Linked DNA regions of Homo sapiens: region 1 is linked to region 2. Evidence: fine-mapped expression QTL. A gene starts in region 2. The other region holds a variant in brackets. All regions are shown on one strand. Distances are from middle to middle.

What was found. PIP is the estimated chance that this variant, and not a neighbour inherited with it, causes the effect.
Region 1: its variant is the best candidate, but not a certain one, in a credible set for the expression of RGR in visceral fat (GTEx, PIP 0.77).

The regions. Positions count from the first base shown.
Region 1 is chr10:84,084,092-84,093,819 of GRCh38, reverse strand. No RefSeq gene overlaps it. Among named protein-coding and RNA genes, the nearest start is that of GHITM, 51 kb to the left of the region's middle. The variant A/T (reference allele first, on the strand shown) is at 5,097.
Region 2 is chr10:84,240,901-84,249,923 of GRCh38, reverse strand. It overlaps RGR (retinal G protein coupled receptor), which reads right to left and starts at 4,871. Exons shown (of 7, transcript NM_001012720.2): 1 at 4,755-4,871; 2 at 2,177-2,333; 3 at 881-1,002. The coding sequence starts at 4,833. LRIT1 (leucine rich repeat, Ig-like and transmembrane domains 1) reads left to right here and starts at 8,378. Exons shown (of 4, transcript NM_015613.3): 1 at 8,378-8,606. The coding sequence starts at 8,485. RefSeq lists an enhancer at 4,226-4,725.

The DNA of each region.
Region 1 (9,728 bases), 160 kb after region 2:
AAGCAATTCATTTGCTATTTTTGTAGTCTCATTTAAAAAAGAATGTTTAAAATAGGTGAACATGGTGGCACATGCCTGTATTCCCAGCCACTTGGGGCTGACACAGGAGGATCTCTTGAACCCAGGACTTTGAGGTTACAGTGAGCTAAGATCGCACTACAGTAGCAACAGTAGTGGGCAGCAGAGTGAGACCTGGGCAACAGAATGAGACCTTGTCAGTAAAAAAAGTACAAAACATTTTAAAAATTAAAAAATTTAAAATAATAAAGGCCATATGGAAATATTTGGGTAGTAATTGTCAAATAAAATGAATATTTCTATAGAAATATGCACCAGAAGTTTATTCTTCTTTTTAGGACAGTGCCCAGATCCTGTTGGATTTTTTGTTGTTGTTGTTGTTCCCTCTTCAGTTTTTTATTACAATATTGTAGGGTCAGAGGAAGCAGCTCATCATTTGGTTTAATCTTTTTCCTAGAAAGGATGCTGCCCATAGCTGGGGCTCCCAGTGAGTGACCAGGATTATCCTAGAAACTTGTAAGAATTAAAAATGTGCTACAGAAGCAAAAACAAAACAAAACAACCTATAATTTCAGTGGTCAGAGATAAGCACTGTTAATACAATGGATATATACTTCTAGAACTTATTCTATTAATGTAGGCTAATCCCTGTTTATCTCTCTTTCTTTCATTTATCTATCTTTAAGTTCCCCCAACAAATATGTATCCATAAAGTAATTTTACTGCCTTCAGGACAGTTGTCTTTTTCATGTACACTTCTGTGCTCCTCCTGAGAGAGGGGCTTAGAACTAAACCGTCTCCTGGTCCATCCCCCACAATTTCTGTTTTTTTTTTTTTTTTTTGGTTTGTTTGAATGTTTGCCTGCCTGGGAACTGCCAGCCGTGCCCATCCAAATCTGCAAATCTTCCTCTAGACTTTGGGAGACAGAAAAGTAGCTCCTACTTCAAGAGGTTAGAATCCTCAGATGTGGCACTTTCAAGGAAAAGGGTTGTTTACCTGAGTGATAAGAATATCTGGAGGAGAGCTCATCACTAGTCGGTGTGTAGTTGCTGTGACTCCGTCTGTCCTGGCAATTTCTAATCTGGTCCTGCCTGTGAATTGCAGAGTGCTCCACGGTGTTCTCCAGCACCCCGTGAAGAAAAGCCTGTGATGGGATTGCAGTTCGTTCTGTCTTGCTATGATTGCTTGTCTGTTCCTGTGGCTTCTAGTGGCTCTTTTCCTTGCTGGAGTAAGAAGTTTCCTTTTTTGCTACTTCAACTTGCTATTTCTTAAAAAATAAATAAATAGAGGGCATCCTTTACTTCTACAAGCAAGAAATAGAGGAGAGAGAGCTCAGGAGATTGAGAAATAGAGAATTTCCCTTAACATTCATTACTTTTATTTCAGAACTTTCAGTCACCTCTGGGTCCATCTATCTGTACTCTCTTTTTTTCTGCTGTCTCTTCTAAAGTATTAGCTTATACAGGTTTCAGGAAAGAACTTGGGAATCCAAAAGTCAATAGAATTCAAAGAATTGTCAACATACTTATGTACAATAACCAATCTCAATCAACCTCAAATGAACAGGGCTAAAACTTGTCTATAAAGAAAAGCTATTTCAACTGTTCGCCAAATTATAAGTCTATGAGTCATTTTATTTGCCATCTTCACAGATACCATGTATTAAAGTCATTCACCTACTGGGAATATTTTTGAAAAAATTTATTCTCTCATGGGAAATTACAAAAAATTTAGAATCGCACATTTTAACTACTGAATATTAATGCAACCTTTCCTAACTACTAGTAGAAGAATCAAATCCCTGTTGCAATTAAGGAGTTGGACCAGCCTCTTTCACATGCACAAGTAATTTCTTCACTATGGTATTCATTTTTACTTCAGGATTTAGACAGGATTGTAATGGGACCAATGCAAGCAGAACTATGTACTTTGTAAATGTGCATAAATGTGCCCATCTTTGGCTTTATGAGAATTGATTGTAGTGTTTACATTTGAGATGAATGAGTTCAGAGTCCTTCATTCCATTTGTGACATATACCATTATACGGTGTTATTTTCTGTTAAAAGATTCAGTTAAGCTGATGGTAAAATTGAGTTGACTACCTTGACTTAGCTATGGCATGTCAAATGTCATAACTTGGGAGCCCAATGAGTGGATAGGGATTATACTGATTCTATTAAGACCAGTGATTTTGGAATCAGGAAACTTGGATTTTAGTCCTGTGTCTATTTTTTAAAGTTTTTTTTAGGGGTGGGTGGGCAATCTTTCCTTTATTTTTTAATTTTTTATTTTTTTTGGAGACAGAGTCTTGCTCTATCCCCCAGGCTGGAGTGCAGTGGCATGATCTTGGCTCACTGCAATTTTCACCTCCTGGTTCAAGCGATCCTCATGCCTCAGCCTCCTGAGTAGCTAGGATTACAGGCACCTGCCACCACGCCCAGCTAATTTTTGTATTTTCAGTAGAGATGGAGTTTCGCCGTGTTGGTCTCAAACTGCTGACTTCGGGTGATCCACCCACCTCAGCCTCCCAAAGTGCTGGGATTACAGGCATGAGCCACTGCACCCAGCCCCTTTATTCTTTTTTTTTTTTTTTGCCTTTATTATTATTTCTAATTGTTACATAATAATTGTATACACTTATGGGGGACAGCATGATATTTCTATACGTTATACTATGTGTTATGGTCAAATCAGGGCAATTAGCATATCATCATATGTCTATTAACAACAAAATTAGACAGTTGTGTTTGGGCCGCGTGTGTGTGTGTGTGTGTGCGTGCGTGCACAGATGTGTGTGTGTGTTTATTAAAAAAATGATATAAGTTTCTATGTTCTGAATGTTAGTGTGCCCCCCAGATTCATATGTTGGAACCTAATACCCAATGTGATAGTATTGAAAGCTGGCACATTTTGGGAAGTGATTAAGTTATGAGGGCTCAGCCCTTATGAGTGGGATTAGTACCCTTACAAAAGAGGCTGAAGGGAGCTGCTTTCCACCTTTCACCCTTCGAGGACACAGCACCAAGGTGCCATCTTTGAGGCAGAGATCTGGCCCTCACCAGACGCTGGATCTGCTGGTGTCATGATCTTGGATTTCATGGCCCCCAGAATTGTAAGTACTAAATTCCTGTTGTTCATAAATTACCCAGTATAATATATTTTGTTATAACAGCAGAAACAGAGTAAGACACAAGGTAAGAAGTTTAACATAGCTAAAACATTGCAACTGTGAGCAAGGGATAGAAGATAGCACTGGACAAGTAGATCAGATCATGAAGGATATTATATGTTATGCTAAGGAAATTGGATTTGATTCTATAGGTATTGGGGACACTAATTTTTAAAAATGTCTTAGTTTGAAATAACTTTAGACTTAGACTTACATAAGAGATGCAAAAATGTATAGAATCCCTATTAGTATACTATCTACCCAGCTTCCTCTAATTTCAACATTATACATAACCACATTATAATGAACAAAACAAAAAAATTAACATTGGTATAATACCTAAATACCTAATAACTAAACTACAGACTTTATTCAGATTCTCACCAGTTTTCCCACTAAGGTTCTTTTTCTCTTCCAGGATCGAAGCCAGAATATCAGATTGAATTTAGTTGTCAGGTCTCCATACTATTCTCTAATCTGTGACAGTTTTTCAGCCCTTTTATGGCTTTCTTCACCTTCAAATGTTTGAAAAGTACTGTTCAGATATGTTGTAGCATGTCCTTCAATTTGGGTTTGTCTGAAGTTTTCTCATGATTAGATTGAGGTTATAATTTATGTTAGTCTGTACTTGCGTTACTATAAAGGAATACCTGACACTGGGTAATTTATAACAAAAAGAGGTTAAATTGGCTCACAGTTCTGCGGGCTGTACAGCAAGCATGTTTTTTGGTGAGGCCTCAGGAAGATTTCACTCATGGTGGAAGGTGAAACGGGAGCTTGCATGTCACATGGCAAAGCAGGAGCAAGAGAGAAAGAGTGAGGGGGGAGGTGTGACACACTTTTAAATGACCAGATTGTGTGAGAACTCACTATCATGCAGACAGCACCAAGCTATAGAGTCCTATGGGAAGTAAAACAGAGACTGTGTGTATAGACAATACTATCAGTGGGTTTGAAGGAACCGAGAAAGAGATAAGAAGGTAGGATGGAAGAAGACCCAAGTTAGGAGGTCCTTATTACATCCTCTCCCCTCATCATGCTCATAAACTATGGTTGTAAGTATATTATTTGGTAAGTATGTGTCTTAGTCTGTTTTATGCTGCTATAAAAAAACACCACAGACTGGGTAATTTATTTTTAAAAAATTATTTCTTACAGTTCTGGAGGCTGGGAAGTTCAAAGTCAAAGGGCTGCATCTGGAGAGGGCCTTTGTGACGCCATCCCATGGTGGAAGGTAAAAGGGCAAGAGAGCAAGAGAGAGCCCAGTTGGCTTTGATATCAACACATTCTCGAGATAAACACACTCCAGATGTTAATCCATTCATGAAGGCTCTACCCACATTGCCTAATCAACTCTTAATGGTCTCACTTCTTTATACAATCACAATGGCAATTAAATTTCAACATGAGTTTTGGAGGGTACATTCAAACCATAGCAGTAAGTATAGTATTTATTCTTTATCATTAGCCTAGATAATTCCCCTTATTTCTCTAAGTGCTTTATATTAAAACATGCACAATGTTATCTGATGGTATTCTACATAATTTGTCATTATGTTGTCAAAGAATGTGCTTCACCTGGTTGGCACAGAATCACCTACAAGCATTTTATCTCAATGCTGTTATAGCTCAATTTAGCTTGTTTGGATTGAGTATTTGGAGAAGGTCTCAGTGTGCTCGGTAGATGGGTCAATTTGCTTTGCTTGATCAGGCTCCCAAGTGCCCCTCAGACCTCAGCCTTACAAATGCCTCATTATCAGCTGAATGGAGAGCAAAGTGAAAGGAGAGAAGATAGCTCAGCTCCAATCTATCCCCACGAGGGAATAATAATTCAAAACACATGCCCTGCTCATGCAGGAGCAAGAGTGTTATCTCTGTATAACATTACTCAACATGGAGGTCACATTT[A/T]CCTTAGTAAACAAAATTACTTCCTTTATTCTGTTGGGAAAGAAAAAAATATTTGCCTCTAGAACATCCTTTGAGCATGAGAAATTAAGCCTGGAGTATAATTCATTTGAGCTAAAAGTACAAGAGATTCTGGAGGCTGAATTTGGGCTTGTAACTGTTTATTTACATTTATAATGGACATCTTTTTACTGTGAAAACAACGTAATAATATTACAGAATGTTAAAAAAAAGAAAGAAAACCACTCCTAATCCCATTAACACAGTTACTATCCTTTTTTTTTTCCTGGTTTCTTTCTATATGCATCCATATTTTTACATAATTATAATTGTATGGAATATACAGTTGCATCCTTGGCTGTTTCACTGACTCATGAGCATTATTCTGAGTTGCAATGTAGTCTTTATAATTATTCTTTTTATGACTGTATAATATTCCATGGAATGGATGTGTCCTCAGTTAATTAAGCACTCCTCCACTGTAGAACATTTAGTTTGCTTCTAATTCATCACTACCATAAATAAAGCCATATTGAAAAATGTCTGCTGTATTTTTTTCACCTATATTTTGTATTATTCTCAAGATGTATTTCGAAAGCAAGGTTACTGAGTCACAGAGGATGAACATTTAAGCTCTATCATCTATCTATCTATCTATCTATCTATCTATCTATCTATCTATCTATCTATCTTATATTGCCTTTTAAAGAGTTTACTGATTATGATGTCGCCAGTTAAGGTTTGCTTAGTGAATGTGAGCTAGGAGTTTGGCAGGACTGGTTTCACCAGATATGGGTCACAAAGACCCCACTGATAAAACAGGAGGTGGTAAAGAAGCCAGCCAAGTCCAGTCTCAAGCCTGTAATCCCAGTAATTTGGGAGGCCGAGGAGGGCGGATGGCTTGAGGTCAGGAGTTCAAGACCAGCCTGGCCAACATGGTGAAACCCTGTGTCTACCAAAAAATACAAAAATTAGCCAGGCATGGTGGCATGCACCTATAGTCCTAGCTACTTGGGAGGCTGAGGTGGGAGAATCGCTTGAACCCAGGAGGCAGAGGTTGCAGTGAACTAAGATCATGCTACTGCACTTCAGCCTGGGAGACAGAGTGAGACCCTGTCTCAAAAAAAAAAAAAAAAAAAAAAAAAAGGCCAGCCAAAATGAAGATGGCAACAAAAGTGTCCTCTTGTTGTCCTCACTGCTCATTTTACATGAATTATGATGTATTAGCATACTAAAGGAAATTCCCACCAGCAACATAATGATTTACAAGTGCCATGGCAACATCCAGAAGTGACCCTATATGGTTTGAAATGGAGATAAACCCTCAGTTCTGGGAATTCCCTACTTCTTTCCTAAAAGACTCATGAATAATCCACCCCCTGTTTAGCATATGATCAAGAAATAACAATAAAAATAGCCAACCAGCAGCCCCCAGGCTGCTCTGCCTGTGGAGTAGCCACCCTTTTATTTCTTTTTTTTCTTTGAGACAGCATCTCACTCCGTTGCCCTGGCTAGAGTGCAGTGGCGCCATCTCGGCTCACTGCAACCTCCGCCTCCCGGGTTCAAGCGATTCTCCTGCCTCAGCCTCCTGAGTAGCTGGGACTACAGGCACGCGCCACCATGCCTGGGTAATTTTTGTATTTATAGTAGAAATGGGGTTTCACCATATTGGCCAGGCTGGTCTCAAACTCCTGACCTCTTGATCCACCCACCTCGGCCTCCCAAAGCGCTGGGATTACAGGCGTGAGCCACTGTCCCCGGCTATTTCTTTACTTTCTTAATAAACTTGCTTTTACTTTACTGTATTGGCTGGTTCATTAATTCCTTCCTGCATGAAGCCAAGAATCCCCATGGCCTCTCAGGCTGAACCCCAATTTTGAGGTGTGTGTGCCCTGTGACAGATGGGGAATCCAAAAAGCCAGAGCAGGGTCAAGTGGAATGGGTCTACTCATGTGGGAAGAGGTGGAAGGGCACTGTGAGTTCTTTCCAGGGATTTGCTGAAAACCAAACATAGTGAAGATGAAATTCTGTTGTGAAATTCAAGCCAGAGGTGGACTTCCATGTAGAGGAACAAATGGAAATCGGAAGTCATAAAATGGGTCAAAAGTGTTTTTTTTTTGAGATGGACTCTTGCTCTGTCACCAGGCTGGGGTGCAGTGGCGCGATCTCAGCTCACTGCAACTTCAGCCTCCCGGGTTCAAGCGATTCTCTTGCCTCAGCCTCCCGAGTAGCTGCGACTACAGGCGCATGCCACCATGCCTGGCTAATTTTTGTCTTTTTAGTAGAGACAGGCTTTCACTGTGTTGGCCAGGATGGCTTCGATCTCTGGGTCAAAAGTCTTATCGACTCTTAAAAGATTAAAGAGACAATGGGGATGGAGAAGCCAAAAGGGGTATGAAGTACTAGGCAATTTCAGCCAGAAGTTTTGAAGTGTGAATAGGTTACAGGCTGGGCATGTATGGAACTGACACACTGGAGTATTTCAGATATGCACAATAACACTGGAGTTGGCAAAAATTAAAACTTATTTAGTGTTCACTCTCTGCTGGATACTGTCTTAAGCTTTTAATGGATTCTTTCATTTAATCTTTACAACATTCACAGGTGCTACTATTATTCCCATTTTCCAGTGAGAACACCAAAGCATAGAGATAAGTGGCCAAGTGACTTTCCTAAGGTGACACAGTGGTCAGCTGTGGAGCTGATTCAAATCCAGGCCATCTGGCACCTGGCTTCTGCTCCACTGTTCTCTCTGCTCTTCTGGAGTTTCTTATTTTGTGAATGTAGTGTGGGTAAAAAATACATCATTCTTCTTTTAATTTTTATTTCTTTGGTTTCTAGTCTTGTTTAATATTTGAGTAAGACATTTTTAACATAACTTTGGGACATGGATGATGGGATCATTTACACATTTGAAAAATGTACCCATGGACAAGGAAGTGAACATATTCTATATAATAACATATTGATATTGAGACTATGCGAAACTGAGTAGAGACATCCAATTAAAAATTATTATTATTATTATTTTAGATACAGGGTCTTGCTCTGTCACTCAGGCCAGGGTGCAGTGACACAGTCATAGCTCACTGCAGCCTCAAACTCTGAGGCTCAAGTTATCCTTCTGCCTCAGACTTCTGAGTAGCTAGGACTACACCACAATGCCCAGTGAATTAAAAAGTTTTATTTGAAGAGATGGGGTCTCACTATGTTGCCCAGGCTGGTCTTGATTTCAAGGCCTCAGGTGATCCTCCTGCCTCAGCCTCCCGAAGTGTTGGGATTACAGGTGTGAGCCACTGTGCCTGGTCTCAATTTTCAAATTCAAGAATGTTTGCCTGACACTGATACTTCCTAGATTATGGCTATATATTTATTGTAAATATTCCATCTTTGAAATAAAGGGGAACACAGTGATGGCTTATTATTTCAATGTGTCAGGAGCCATATCTCATTGTGCCTGGAACCAGATCTCTTCAAATGTAATCATTATAGTTAAAAGATTGTCTTTGGGGTAGAGTGAGCTAGGAATGAAATCAGGCTCTTCTAGAGGAAGTTTGTGGATGTTCTGGGAAGAAACACCACCCCCAGCCTCCTGGGTTGTCATGCTCCTACTCCTGTTTCCCAGTAGAAGTTCTGAGGAAGATGCTTCACTGGCTTGGAGAATCTTTGGTTTTGAAATGCCTTATACATTTATTTTTTCTTTTTAATCAAAAGCCTTTCTTTATGTAACATTGTAATTAGGTTAATGCTGAAAGGACTTCTGGTTTCAGCTTCTATATGTGAAGAAATTGGAAGTTGTCACTTCCATTTTTACAACCATAAAAACCTAGTCAAATTGAAAACTAATGACTTTTCTTGGACTTATTGTGGAATGAGGTTGCAGGGCAAACCATCACCCTGAAATCTGGGGAGACAGGTCCCTCCAAAGAGACACAGTTAACAGCTACCTACCTAAGATGGAAGCTTCTGGAGTCATAAACTATAGCACTTTGGTGTTATGTTGGGAAATTGCTGGAGGTTGAGTGTGGATTAGCATGAGGGTGAGGTTGAGTAACTCCTGGGGAGTGCAGTCTTAGGGTGACTGCCACAATTCCATGGGTTTTTAGCTTCAAGAACCTTACTAGGTTCTCATGATGAATATCAGAAAAATCTTTTTGTAACTCTGGCAAGGAGAGAGTAATCATTGTGAAATATGCACATAGTCTTCATAATGAATACCTACTCTCCAGGGATAAAAATTTTGCCGGGAAATTGTTGCACCAAGAAGAGACAGATTCCTTTTTCTTCAACCGTCTCTAGCCTTCCTGTCTCACCGGACAGGGGAAAAACATAGACAACAGATGTGAGGGCTTTAAGAAAATAGACTATAAATTACACAGCCAAGGAAGGCAGGGAGAAAAAAAGCTATATTGTGATGAAACTCTTGTGAAGGTCACAGCACTGAGTCACAGGTCCACTAAAATATTGAGATTTAATCAGACTATAGGACACTTCTTCCATTCATCTTACCACCACACCAACAGGGCTCCAGTATAATAACAGCAGATTGCAGCCAAGAAACTGCAAGGTATATACTCTATCTAAGGAGGAGTACTTAGGGAAGCCTAAAGTCAAGAGGGGAGACACCAATAAGGA
Region 2 (9,023 bases):
GTGTTTACATTTTAAAAAATGAGTCACTTTTAAGAAAAAAAAAATTAAGGAAAAATGGAGCAGTTTGTACACTGATATGGCCAATTATGAAGATGGTATTTGACAGTGCAGCTTGTGAAATCTAGAGCTGGACAGTTTTCATGAAGCCTCATGGAAGTGTGGGGTGCCAGGGCACATGCCCAGCTACACACACATACACACAGCCTCTCTGCGCCTGTCTGCAGAGTAGTGCCTGTCTGCAAGGGCATTTTCTGTATCCCTGATCTCATTTCATTTTCAAAATAAAACTGAGATTGGTTATTAAAATCATCTCAGCCGGGTACGGTGGCTCACGCCTGTAATCCCAGCACTTTGGGAGGCTGAGGTGGGTAGATCACGAGGTCAGGAGTTCAAGACCAGCCTAGCCAATATGGTGAAACCCCATCTCTACTAAAAATACAAAAATTAGCCAGGTGTGGTGGCACATGCCTGTAGTCCCAGCTACTCAGGAGGCTGAGGCAAAAGAATCACTTGAAACCAGAAGGCCGAGGTTGCAGTGAGCCGAGGTCACACCACTGCACTCCAGCCTGGGCAATAGAGCGATTCCGTCTCAAAAAGAAAAAGAAAATCATTTCGCAGAGGAGGAGACTAAGGTTCAGAGAGGATCCCTGACTTGCCCAAGGTTGCGGTAATGGCAAGAGAGGCCCAACAGCTCTCCTGCACACTCTCCCACCCTCCCTCCTTTCCTGAAATGAGTGCCTATGCATGCACACTCACACCTACCCACACTTCCCTGTACTGGGAAACACGGAGCAGTAGCTAGTTATGACTGCCCCTCCCTGCCTCTTATCCTCTCCACACTGCATCGGTGTCCCTCCACTCCAGGAGCCCAGATACATACGGGTGCAGTAGTGGTGATAACGCCCCCATGCGATGGCTGCACTGCTGCAGATGCTGGCCAACGCTGTCACAAAGCCCTGGAAGCCGTGAGCCTGGCAGCCGTCCGAGCCGTAGGGCCAGCGCCTGTGGGAGACACTGGGCACCAGTGACCTCTCCTCCGATCCTTTCCACCTCCCACACCTGCCAAGTACAGCTTGGAGTGTGTGTTCCTGAATGCTGCCCTTCTTCTCTGAAGAGGGCCTTAATATTGGTGTCTTTCCTATGAGGCGTTGGAGCTCAAGTAACTGGGCTGAAGGGGTGGAGCCCAATGCACACTCTCCAGGCTGGGTGACTTTGACTGCACCATGGTTGGGCCATAGGCTCTCTCTGCGTGATCAGATCCCTCTGTCACAGGAGAGCTCATGCCTGTATTTGATAGGTGGGGAAACTGACATTCAAAGAGGCAAAGATACTGAAGCCAAGGTCACACAGAAGATGAAGGCAAAGTCAGAGGGGAGATCCCAGGCCTCCCCAGCCTAAAAGGGCAAGCAAAGGTGGAAACTTCAATTCTCTGTGGGAGGAAGAGTTCTCACTGATGCAGACCCCCCAGGCTGGTCAGCACTGAGCATGCACATCCGGGGGGGCTCCAGCCTCCGTCTGTAGTGTCCAAAACCAGAATGAGAATGTCCAGTCTGCTTCAGAAAACAATTTTATAAACACCTTCTGAAGCTGTGATGGAAGACCCTGGTTTTTGTATAAGGAGGTATTAGACACTAGCTAGTTATGACTGCCCCTCCCTGCCTCTTATCCTCTCCACACTGCATCGGTGTCCCTCCACTCCAGGAGCCCAGATACATACGGGTGCAGTAGTGGTGATAACGCCCCCATTTGTGTTCACAAACACTTACGTAGAGTCCTAGGTATCAAGCATTATTTTAAGTTATTTACACATAATAGAAGTAAATACTTCCAACCACCTATATGAGTTAGGAAATAATATCCGATTTATGGAAGAAGCCCAGAACTAGAAATGCTGAAGCCAGAATGCAAACCTAGGTTGCTTGGTTACAGAACCCACACCATTGATCTCTACAGCCTACCATCTCTTTCATCAGGTTTCAGCAACCCCTGTCTTCCAGAAATCAGCTGTCGTTCTTCAGAATCAATCTGGAATTCAGCCCATTTTAGCCTGCCCACCCTCTGCCCTTGGCCAATTTTCTGTAAGTAGTAAAAATGCCCTTGGCCTGGCTGCCCAGGGCCCAGGGGTCAGGCCCCAGGCAGGACCCCAGAGCCTGTGGACTGGGGAGGGGGCTGGTACCGGAGAAGGCTGGATGTGGCTGCAACGAGGGCATTCAGGCTGATCCCACTGTCCGCAAGAGCCAAGCTCAGCACCAGTAGGTGGCAGGGAGTCCGCAGCTCCGGGGTCTTGCAGAAAGAGAAGATGGTCAGGGTATTGAGGCTGAGACCGGAGAGAGCTGAAAGGAAGGGTGGGGGCTGGCATTGGGGCTGCTGAGGCCCAGCTGGGGTCAGAACAGTGTGTGTGGGGTGGATGGAACATCAGCAACCTCCTGGACAGACAAGGAAGACAATCAATATAGGGTAGCATGCTTCATGCTATAACAGTCATAATCACTGACAGCTGCCAGGCACTTAGCACACACCAGGCACCAGGATAAGCACTTTATATGAGTCATCTCATTCAATCTTTACTTGGATACTCTCTTCTCCATTTATAGCTGGGAAACTGAGGCTCAGAGACACTAGCTAACTTGCCCTAAGTACACAGCTAGTAAGCGGTGGAGCTGGAACTTGAATTCAGGCCTTTTGGATTTCAAAATGCCTTCTCCAAGGACTGTAGAGCAAAGTCAGAGAGGCTCCAAGGAGAAGAGTCGATGTTAGAGCTGGGAGCTGCCCAGGACGCCAGGCATGGAAGTGAACATGAAGGGGGCGTACTCTGGCAACAGAGAGACCCGACCTTGAATTTTGGCTTGGTTGCCTCGCTTGCTGCTCCTTAAGCTCTCTGAACCTCAGCTTCCCCTATCTAAAGTGAGGAACAGGAAAAAATCCTGCCTTCAAAACTATGAGAAGCACTTACCTGCAGGACAGTGCATGGAAGAGCATTCCAGGAGGGAATAGCATGTGCAAAGACATGCTATGGTACAATGAGATACCACCTTACTCCTATAAGAATGACCATCATTAAAAAGTCAAAAAACAATAGATCAATGCCATGGATGTGGTAAAAAGGGAATGCTTATGCACTGCTGGTGGGAATATGTAAATTAATACAACCTCTATGGAAAACAGTATAGAGATTCCTTAAATAACTAAAAGTAGATCTGCCATTTAATCCAGCCAAAAACACACATGCACATCTATGCTTACCGAGGCACAATTCACAATTGCAAAGATACGAAATCAATGTAAGTGCCCACTGACCAATGAATGGATAAAGAAAATGTAGTATATATACATCATGGAATAATAGCTGTAAAAAGGAATGAAATAATGTCTTATTACAGCAATTTGGATGGAGCTGGAGGCCATTATTGTAAGTGAAGTAACTCAGGAATGGAAAACCAAATGCTGTTTGTTCTCAGTTACAAGTGGGAGCTAAACCGTGAGTACGCAAAGGCATTCAGAGGACACAATGGACTCTGGAGACTCAGAAGGGGAAGGGTGGGAGAGGGAGTGGGATTAAAAAAACCTACAAATGAGGCACAATGTACGCTACTTGGGTGATGAGTGCACTAAAGTCCTAGCATTTGCCACGATGTAATTCATCTATGTAAACAAAAATCACTTGTATCCCCAAAGCTATTGAAATTTAAAACATATTTTAAATAAAATAAAAACCAAAGCATTGTGTATATAATGACATTTCTAGTCATTAAACATGAAATAAAAATGTAAATTTAAACCCCTTCCAAAAAATAAAGTGGTAAAATTTTATGGCATGTTTGAGGACCTGGAAGGATGCTAGATTGTAGGGTTCTCAGGAAAGGGAGACACGGGCTGGGGCCACCAGACAGTCGTGTCCAGAGCCTTCAGGACCAATCTAATGACTGTCACTTCCTCTCCATTGTCAGTTCTCATTAGGTGAGAAAACGTGCTGATGATTTCTCTGGGTCTGCTTTGAACCAAAGCTGCGTTCTCCATCAATTTAGCTTGGGCTGGCCCAGATTCAGGATTGACACTGTCTCTAGCTCTGGCCTCAGCGAGCATCTTAGGGATTCTAGGTTGAGGTAGGTACCTCGCAGACCCAGGTTGCCTCCAGAGGTGAAGTGCTTGGGCTCATAGGAGTAGACACAGTGAAAATAGTGGTGGGGCTGGAGAGGATGGGAGTGAATGAACTTAAATACCCTAGAGTCTATTTAGGCTAGCACTTTATACCCATTATCCCATTTAATCTTTACAACCACCCATTCGGAATGTCAAGGCATTGAGGGCAGAGAGCTGAAGGGACTTGGTTCCAGCCACACAAGAGCAGGAGGCAGAGCTGTCTGTCCCCAGAGCCTTTTGGGGGACTGATCTTATGTGGGATTCTCAGCAGGATTTCCAAGGAGTGGATTAAATTTTCTCCCGGCTGGAGGGACATGAAAAGTCCTAAAGCCTGGCTCTTGATCATCTCCTGGGCAGATGTCCCCTTTCAAAGTCCCTCCCTCCCTGACCCTTGCCTGGCTTCCTCTCTGCTCCCAGCGGGCAGTGTGCTGCACCTCACAGGTTCAATTGTCAGAACACCCCCCGAGTCCGGGCACAGAGGGGAAGGCAGCCAATGGGACCGGACACCCAGCTGGGTTTGGGGACCTCTCCTCTCCTTGCCAGCTCCACACTGGTGGCCTGGGTCCTCAGAACCCACTGGGCCCCCGCTGCACCCCAGGTTCTGCCTGGCTCACCTTCCACCAGTAGCACCATCCCCACAGCCAGCACCTCGAGCTCCCCGAAGCCAGTGGGCAGGGCACTGGTCTCTGCCATCCTCACTCTCCCTCACTGCCAGTGGCCCAGCTGTCTCTGGCTTCCCACAGCCAGGCCCTCCCTTTTAAAGGGCCATCCCATGTGCGTGGAGGCACATGCAGGTTATTATGTTGGACCTTGGGCTGTTTCTGGATGCCTCCCCGCTGCAAATGGTCCTCTTGGCCCAAGCAGAAGGAACCCATTCACGAGTTGGACAATGCAGCCTTTGTGAAGCCAGAATGGAGCCCTGTCTCATTCATTTCAGCCCCATTGCACAGGATTAAGGTCGGGGAATCCAAATGGTGTGTGGCTGAGAGCCTAATTGGAAAAGAGTTGCATAACCAGGGGAGGGGAGCAGGAGGAGGGATTTGAGCCGCAGCTGTTCCCAACAAGCCTGGTGCCTGTGTGTGTGTCCTCAGGCTCACATGAGTATACTCCAAAGCGCTGGGGAAAGGATGAGGCTTGGGAAGTCGCCTGCTGTCAGAGGAAGAACCCCATCTGGGACCAGAAAATGGGGTTGGGGTTCTGGTTCTGAATCTGCCACTAACTAGTTATGCGCCTTGGAGTGGGACCACTGGACTCTTCCGTTTACTTTTCTGCAATGTCAATGTCTTTTGTCTGTGGCCTTTATATAAGTCCTGGTTAGATATCACGAATATAAACCTCAGGGCTGCATTTCCTGTCTCCCATAGAGCACCTGAGCATAAAAAATGTCCTAGGACACTGTCTTAGAACAGAGGGGCTGCCTGCCGTCTTGTCAGTCTCCGACCCCGAACCCGCCCAGCCTTGCCGGCCCCACTAAGAGCTTTGGCTGCTACAAATGACTTCTTGATACACTGGCTCTTTATGCACTGTTATGCTCTGGCTCATGATAAAATTTACACCAGGAAATACTGATCTAGGACAACTTAGTTCATTTTCAGATAAAGAAACCAAGCTCCAGAGCACTATCAGCAACATAGCTAATATTGAGTGAGGTCAGGCCCTGTGCTAGGGGATCTTCTGATGAGTCCTACAACAACTCCATGAGTTAGATACCATTATCCTTTCCATTTTAGATGAGGAAACTGTGGCTAAAAACAGTTAAGAATCTGCCTGAGGCCATGCAGTAATTTATGGATGGAGCTGGAACAAAAGCCGATCTCCTATTCCTCAGGCTCAGGCATTTTTCAATGGCATCTTCTGACTCACCTGGTAGAGCAACCCACTCTGTTCCAGGAATGCCCACTTCCCAGGCCTTTCCTCTCATGAGTCCTCACTTACATCCAAGCCTAATCCCTCTGCAGGGCTGAGCTTATGGCTGCGCCCTCCAGAGCGTTCCCTGTTCTTTCTCAATTTCTTTTTTGTTTTTTTGTTTGTTTTTGAGATGGAGTCTCGCTCTGTCGCCCAGGCTGGAGTGCAATGGCGCAATCTCGGCTCACGCAACCTCTACCTCCCCAGTTCAAGCTATTCTCCTGCCTCAGCCTCCCGAGTAGCTGGGATTACAGGCATGTGCCACCATGCTCGGCTAATTTTGTATTTTTATTAGAGACAGGGTTTCTCCATGTTGGTCAGGCTGGTCTTGAACTCCCGACCTCAGGTGATCTGCTGGCCTTGGACTCCCAAAATGCTGGGATAACAGTCATGAGCCACCCTGCCTGGCCTTCTGTCTCAATTTCTACCTTATGGTGTTGGTTAATACATATGTCAGTCCTTTTTTCATGCCTTCGAGATCACAAAAGCCTTCATGAGAGGAGATAAAGCAGGGCAAGGCCAAGATTAAAGGGTAAAGTTCATTTGGGCAAAAGACACAAGGAGGAAGAAGCAGAGATGTGGGAACAGGCAAGCTGACGGCTGGGTTTGGGGAGGTGGAAGTATAGCTGGGAAGCACTGAGAAAATCCTACTGGCTGCATTGGAAGGAAGGAAAGAATGAGAAGCCAGTATTGTTGAAACAGACCTGGCTCCGAGCTAGGCATTTTATGTGTGCACTGGGGCCCCAGATATCTTTGCAGGTCATACCTCACTGGTCTAGGCCTGCCTGGAGCCACAGGCATGAAGGACTGGGGAACCTTCTAGAAAAGCCAAACAACATAGGTAGGGCATGCTGGACCAGAGAACAATGCCTCAGGGTCAAATGTGAAGAATGAATGAATGAGTCGACTGAGTGTCTACTGCTGGGAATCATCCCTGGTCAGTCCCCACTGGCATCTTGAGTAGATATGGTGGGGCGAGATAGGGTTAGGAGAGAATAAGTAAAAATTGAAATTAGTCTGGGTGCAGTGGCTCAGGCCTGTAATCCCAGCACTTTGGGAGACTGAGGTAGGAGGATCGCTTGAGGCCAGGAGTTTGAGACCATCCTGGGCAACATGGCAAGACCCTGACTGCAAAAAATAATTTTTTAAAAATAGCCAAACATGGTGGTGGTTGCCTGCAGTTCCAGCTACTTGCGAGGCTGAGGCAGGAGGATGGCTTGAGCTCAGGAGTTCGGGGCTACAGTGAGCTATGATTACACCATTGCACTCCACTCTGAGTGACAGAGCAACCCTGTCCCTATAAAGCAAAACAAAGCTTTATGGATGGAGAATTTCCAAAGGCCCTTATTAGAGGTTGGGGTCCTGTCTCCAAAAAAACCTGAAAGTGCCTTCTCTAAGACCTCTCTGAGCTACCTCTCTGGGGCCCTCCTTGGAGTAGGGCACCTTGAGGAGAGGGGTGCCCTTGTCCCTTATGTGGAGACATCTCCACCTTTGGCATTCGTAGCAATGCCCAGAAGGGCTCAGCTGAAATAGTAGTGTGTTGAGTCCATATCCATGGGGCACTCAAGGCAGGCAGCTGTTTGCCTGGCAGCCTGGGACAGTTTGTGGGCTCATGAGAGACACCTCTGATGTCTCCCCAAAATATCTGAATCTGTCCAGTTCTTCTGTAAGTAGGGTCTTATAAGTACCAGTGAAACTGGGCACTTACAACTTGTGAGAGAGCTTCTGTTCCCACAGGCTGTCAAGGCCTTGGAATTTGAGTTTGATTTTCACAAACACCCTGCATGAAGTAACTTTATTTCTCTTTGTCAGATAAGGACACAGAGGCCAAGAGATAATGTGACTCACCCAAGGTCACAGCCCCTTAATGGAGCAGCTGGGATTTGACCCCAGGAAGCCTGGGTCCAGAGCTTAGCCTCCTTCCAATGCCTTTAGCACCATCAGGAAGAGTTGCTTCATTTCACTGCTTTTTTGCTATGAGACAGTGTCACAGGAAAGAATTTCCAAAGGCCCTTACTGAGGCGGGGGTTCTTTCTCCATCTTCCCTGGCACTCCAGTGGGGTCTGTGTTGTCCGTGGCCTTGTTGGGATGGGATGCTTTGCAGATGACAGTCCCATGGCTGCTCGCCTCTGGAAAGCTGCCTACTTGTCTTGCTTTGCTGTGCCCTGCCCTGGCCTCTCTGGGCCTGTGGATATTGCTATGGAAGGGGGTCCCCCGCCCCTACCCTCAGGACTGAGTGATTCAGAAAGCAATAAGCCTCTGAGTGCTGCGGCTGGGACTCCCCTCCCTAATCCCCAGTCTGTCCATGTTTATCCGATGGCCTCAGGAGGGGGTGTAAGGGGCTGGCGAGCAAGTGGGCAGCTGCTGAGCTTGCTGGGCCGGTGGGACGGAGCGGTCCAGGGACAGGCCCCTGCCTGGGCCAGAGAGGAGCCAGGAGCCATGAGGGTGGCATTAGGCATGCTCTGGCTCTTGGCCCTTGCGTGGCCCCCCCAGGCCCGGGGCTTCTGCCCCTCTCAATGCAGCTGCAGCCTCCATATCATGGGTGATGGCAGCAAGGCCAGGTATGGTACCGGGTGCGTGGGACGGGCAGCCCAGCCTCCATTGCTTTGCCAGCTAGGCTGGGTTGGGAGGAGTTGGAGCTGGGGCCCTGGGTGAGGTCTTCATCTCCCTTGGCCCTTGAGGACCAGGGATCCTATGGGGTGGACTGTGCTGCATTGTTTTCCAGCAGGCAAGGGGGTGACTCTATTCGAGAGGTACCAGGTATCTATACACATGGGCCCGAGGGTGAGGCACAAGTATGTCAGTTCTAAGAAGTCCTTCCTAAGTCCTCCTCCAGGCTCCTGGTGAAGAGCCCTCCTTAAAGGTCCAGGAAATCTCCTCCCTTACTGCTTTTTCTTCTCTTTTATTTTTTCTATTCCCTCTTCTTTTCTATATTTCCCCAGCCCCTTCTTTCCCAGGCCACTTGCACTCTCTTGCCT